Linked DNA regions of Homo sapiens: region 2 is linked to region 1. A link means that fine-mapping ties the variant in region 1 to the expression of a gene that starts in the linked region. Tissue or cell type: sun-exposed skin. Region 1 holds a variant in brackets; the other region holds the start of a gene. All regions are shown on one strand. Distances are from middle to middle.

The links. PIP is the estimated chance that this variant, and not a neighbour inherited with it, causes the effect.
Region 2: it holds the start of KLHL31, and the variant in region 1 is fine-mapped to the expression of KLHL31 in sun-exposed skin (GTEx, PIP above 0.99).

The regions. Positions count from the first base shown.
Region 1 is chr6:53,792,275-53,795,036 of GRCh38, forward strand. LOC124901333 (a long non-coding RNA gene) reads right to left here and starts at 1,401. Exons shown (of 5, transcript XR_007059619.1): 1 at 1,267-1,401; 2 at 1,009-1,075. LRRC1 (leucine rich repeat containing 1) reads left to right here and starts at 2,731. Exons shown (of 14, transcript NM_018214.5): 1 at 2,731-2,762. RefSeq lists silencers at 1,422-1,551, 2,597-2,762. The variant C/T (reference allele first, on the strand shown) is at 1,139.
Region 2 is chr6:53,664,281-53,666,888 of GRCh38, forward strand. It overlaps KLHL31 (kelch like family member 31), which reads right to left and starts at 1,476. Exons shown (of 3, transcript NM_001003760.5): 1 at 1,321-1,476.

The DNA of each region.
Region 1 (2,762 bases):
TCAACATGGCAGCTGGCTTCCCCAAAGTGAGTGATTCGAGAAAGAAAAAGTTGGTTACATAGACCAACCAGGAGATGGTGGATGTTGTCCCTAACTTCCTGGAGGCTGGCTAATAAAGTGCATAATTAATATTTATTGATTAAAGTAATGTGTGTCTGATACTGTACTAAGCATTTTACATATGTCATTTCATTTAATCCAGATAACAATCCCATGAATCATCCTCATTTGAGATATGATAAAACTGAGGCTTATACAAGTTAAGTAAACTGTCAATTTCTACGAAGCTAGTGGCATAACAAGAGTTCAAACACAGATCTCTTTAGCTCAAAGGCTGTGAAAACATGGTTCACAGTACAAATGAATAAAAGAATTACATTATTCTAAGAATAAAGTGATTTAGGTGGTCTTTTTAAACTTTGTTTAAATTGAGTCAAACTCATTTGTATGTGGCGGAAGAAACTAGATGTTTTATCAGGCGGGAAACCCTAAAATTCTTCAGGTGAGTAAAAAGTTAATTGCTTCCCTATTCTGTAGTTGACAAGGTGTTGTTTCATTTTTTCTCTCTTACTACGCTGTTTCAAATTCTTGGCAGATTATTGGAAACAAGGAAAGTCAAGAATTCTCCCAGTGACTACCCATAGAATTAAATCAACAAAAACTGTTGATCATTGACTGTGCATATGGCACTGTGGCAGCTTCCCAGATCTACAAAGCAAGTGAGACAGTATCTGTTGTTTAAGAGGTCATAATCTCTTTCGGATTAAGGTGATACAAAAATAATAACACAGAGAAGCTGAAGCATCATGGAGAGGCACACAAGGAATGCTTATTGAGGTCTGAATTTTTAAAAGACTGGACACGTCTTTAAAATACATTTGGTGTTCGTTAAAATAATCTAGTGTGATAACCTCTGGAAATCACATTATTTTAAATGGAGGGAACTAGCCTTCTTTAATTTTTTTTTTAAAAAGCAGTTGGAAAACTTGAAGACAGGGACTTACTTACCTTTCCACATGTCTCTGTCAGGAACCAGTTTTCTAGGAAGGGTGGCAGAAATGAGCTTCATATGTTTCTGGAATGCAAGAATGTAGAAAGGGGGGTGGAGGTTCAAAGTCCAGGTAGCCCTCTGTGAGAA[C/T]GCAGGAATCAAATCAGGACAAACAAAAGAAGGGTGAAGTGGGTAGGGCAACGGAGTTTCGGGATTGACTGGAATGAGAGTTAAGGTGATAATGCTGGGGTGGAAATGAAAGTCAGACCCCTCCTTACGGACTGGGAAGAAAGGAGCCCTCCTAGTAAAGTTGAAAAGACCAAGTGTCCTCTTCTCCATTTCACCGGGGAAACGCTCCTGTGCCTAGTCGTAAGGTACAGGAGAGTCTATGGAGCCCATGGAGAGTCTAATGCAAAAACTAGTTTCCGACCAAACTTTGCCTTGGCCACTGAGCATGCTCAGCTTTGTCTTCTATAGAAAAGTGAACTCCGTGGCTCCAGATTTTAGCTATAGCAGCTGGAGGGCGGGAGTGAGTGTGGGAGAGCCAGCGTGGCAGCGGCCGCAGGTGGAAACCTGGAGTTTGAGTATGCTTGAAAGGGAAAGTGTGGAACGAAGGGGCGGCCGGGTGGGGAATCAGAGAAGCCCCCAAGGAAATGATTCATCATTGTGATTGACCTTGACTTTAGCAACCCTTCATTAAAGGAGAAAATTTGGTTATTCGGAGATGGGGACTGTGTTGCAAACAGTTACAGGCAAAGAGGGGCAGTTCAGGATTCCGGCCGTGGTCCGCAGGAATGAGTCGGGGCGAGGGAATGGTTGTTATAACCCAATAGTGAGCCTCCCCGGTCATCCGGGCTGGACGGGACTGGGGTTGTAGCAGAAAAGCAGGAGCTGTATGGAGGATGCTCACCTGGCAGCCTCGATCTGCCCCTCTTCCCTCGCTCCTCCCTCCGCACCAGCCACAGCTAGTTGTCAGGGGCCAACATCTGGGCCGGGCTGGAACTGGCTCAGAAACTCGCGTTTGCCTGCTTATTTCTGCAGCTGGGCTCCTTGCCAGGTGCAACCACATCTATGAGAATCTCGCAGACTCTCAGACTCCTATGCCTTTGCTGGTACAGGGAGGAGGATTTACTATCACTCACTGCATAAACCATGATCACCAGAGATGTGCTCCCAAGTTACAAAGCCTGCAGGCGGTGCCCGAGGACCAGAGGGCCGGGCGCGGCCAGCTCACACTTCTGGGGCAGCCGTGAGCAGCGGGCACACGGGCAGCCACGAAAGCAGCAGCGAGGGTGGTGCAAACACCTCAAAACTACACCGAATCCAGTAGCGCCTGGCGCCCCCGGCGCGCAAGGTACGCTTTGGGGCGGTCCTGTGTGACCCCGGAAGAGAAAGTTGTTTTGGGGAAGGGGAGCAAGGAGAGGAGTGCGAGTTAAATAAAACTAAATATCAAAGTTGTTCTGCTCTGCTCAGGCCGCCTCTACTCCGCCTCATCTTTGTCCCAAGTCCTTTCACAGTCTGCCTTCCTCAAACGGCCCGATGCGCCCCCGTCTTTGCCGGAGTAAGCAGACCGCCAGCAGCCGGCCCGCAGGTCAGTCGACCCTCTCTGGATGCAGGTCGCCGGGAAAACCCGGAGCGGAGCATCCCTCGGGCCGGGAAACGCCCTCGGCGCGCACCCACTGGCGCGCATGCTCAGTCCGCGCGGCGGCTGCGAGTAGGAAGCTCCGCGCGGCGGCGGGGGCGGCGACGGCGACTGGCGGGTGGGAGTGGAGGC
Region 2 (2,608 bases), 130 kb before region 1:
TACCTGAAATTCAAATGTAGCTGGATGACCTGACTTGTATCTGGCATTCCTGATCAGGGCTGGGTATCAGGTGAGTCCATGAGTCCTGCGGAATAGTCTGAAACATACTGTGTGCATATGTTTATGTGTACTTTCCACACACTGGGCTCAGCGTTTTCATGAGATCCATAACCCGAAATAGATCCAAAATGACTGGACTGAGAATAATGCTGCCAAGCAATGGTACATAATTGGACCCTTGTCTGTAAGTGGGCAAGTCCATGTGAAAGTATTGCACTTAAATTCTTCCTGGCCCCAGCTGATCCCAGATGAAGACCCCCAGAACTGGTTATAGAAAAGAGTTGTTACTTCATATTTGAGAACATTTTCCTTCCCACTGCCCTGCACCCATGCTTCCTGGGAGTCCACAACAGGGTAAACTGGAAAGCCATGTGTGCTAAAGTGTCACTGTCACTCTCATGCCAGTATGAACTGGGATCCCAGAATGTCTTTTTGCCAAAGGGGCGAATCAGCTGCGCCTGCTCCCTGTCCTGGCCACATTCCTATCGCTGCATCTGTCGGGGCTCATCAGCCCTACCTCCAGGAATAGAAACCCTCCTGGCTTCTGTGGCTTGCCATTTTAAGTCCAACCTCGGGGTGGGGTGTAGGGGGGTGGTTTCCACTTCACCATTACACTTCCAACATGATTTTTAATATAAAATATATGTCAGCATAATGATATGTGCACATTTAAGACAAAAACCTATTTTTTAGCCAAATAACAAATTTTTTTTTTTTTTTAGGAAGGATATTTCCATTTCATCAATAGGTTATATTTCTGGGAATTCAGAGTTGTCTGAGTTTTGTGCTACAGATTTAGTTAAAACTGGTAACATTTCATCCAAACTGATCAGTAACAAATGTTAAAATGATTCTTGATAAAAATAAAGGTAGAATTCTAAACTTTGTGAACAAAGCCTAAGAATTTTCTCTCCTTCTCCTTCTCTATAAAGTAGTGAAAGAAAAATATATCTTAAGCTTTAGAGATTTAGAATTTTTGTTAGAAATTACAGGTGGTTTTACATTTGTAGGGCATCATTGTCATGCATTTTGTTACCGTGAAGTTCTCCTAACACGTTACATTTCTCAGATTTCAAAAAAATGTTTTCTGTCTCCCAACTTCAGATTAGGGACATGAACCACCTGACCCAGCTGTAGACTCCCTTCAGTAAAATAGCTCTACAACCACAAACACTCAGCCCACCCTCTCCCACCCACACATCCACACACACCCCAGGATCTAGAAGGCAGGAATTGGCGACTCTGGTCCCAGCTCCTTACCCTCCTTGGGTGAAGTGGCAGGTCAACTTGAGATGATGAAGTTTTAGCAGGAGACTCCTCTTGGGAAGGGATCTGTGGAGATAGAGAGAGGGAGAAGGAAAATCCGGTGGGGAGCCACCAGCAGCCACCTGACAAGACCCGGCTGCAGCAATTTTTAGAGTGACCCTTTGCCGTCCCACTGGATAAGGCAGGCCGAGCCTGCGCTTTGGCCCGGGAGCAGAGCAGCGAGCGCCCTCCTCTCCGTCTTTGGCCTTCAACTCTCCAGCCAGCCGGGGGCAGGGGGCGGGGCTCCGGTTGGTGGAGAGGGGTTGGGTTTCTTGAACTGACCAGCTGCTCAAAATGAAAAAGAAAAGAAAAGAAAAGAAAAGAAAGAAAGAAGGAAAGAAAGAAAGAAAGAAAGAAAGAAAGAAAGAAAGAAAGAAGGAAGGAAGGAAGGAAGGAAGGAAGGAAGGAAGGAAGGAAGGAAAGAAAGAAAGAGAAAGAAAGAAAGAAAGAAAGAAAGTCAAGAGCTCAATCAACCTGTGTGAGAGGAAAGAAAATTAATTCGATGGATGTTTAATTGTTGGAAGCAGGGATTCTAGTAGAGTAAGGAGAAGGGAAGGCTGTGGATTAAAAATTAGTTTTTGGAAAGGTAATTAGCCTGGTCACCTACGGTCTTTTGAGAAGATAGTGGTTATAAATAGCCTATTCTTTATAAGAGGAGCACGTATCTACCAGATATGGTACTTTCTACAGCACCTCACATGTGGTTCTAACATTATTAGGCTCATTTTAGAGTTTAATAAAGTGAGGTTTATGGCCAGCGATTTTCCAGTGATCACAGAGAGGTCTGAGATTAACACACACTCTAGCACACATGCAGGTTGGGAAATATCTACTTTGGCAACACTTCATGAGAAAAAAAATTCAATGATTATAATTGACTACAAATTTTAATGGGCACCAAGAGTGTGAAATGGTTGCTTAAAAAGTTAACATGATATTAAGCTACAATAATAGAAAAATAGATCATGGAAAATAAATGTTCTAATTATTCTTCATTAGTCAGATGATGTGTTAAGCATCACTTTGCTATCTTGGCACTCTGAGAACTTACTCTTCATCCTACAGAGATGGCTGGAACAAAAAAACTTCAGAGGCGGTGCATGTTGGAAACATCTGAAGAGAAGTATGACAAAGAGAGGACTTTTAAGATAAGTGAGACACCTGAGAGCAAGTGTTGTGGGGGCTGTTGTACAGCAAGAGGATTCAGTCAAAATTTCTGTAGCCTAAAATGTCAAAAATTTTA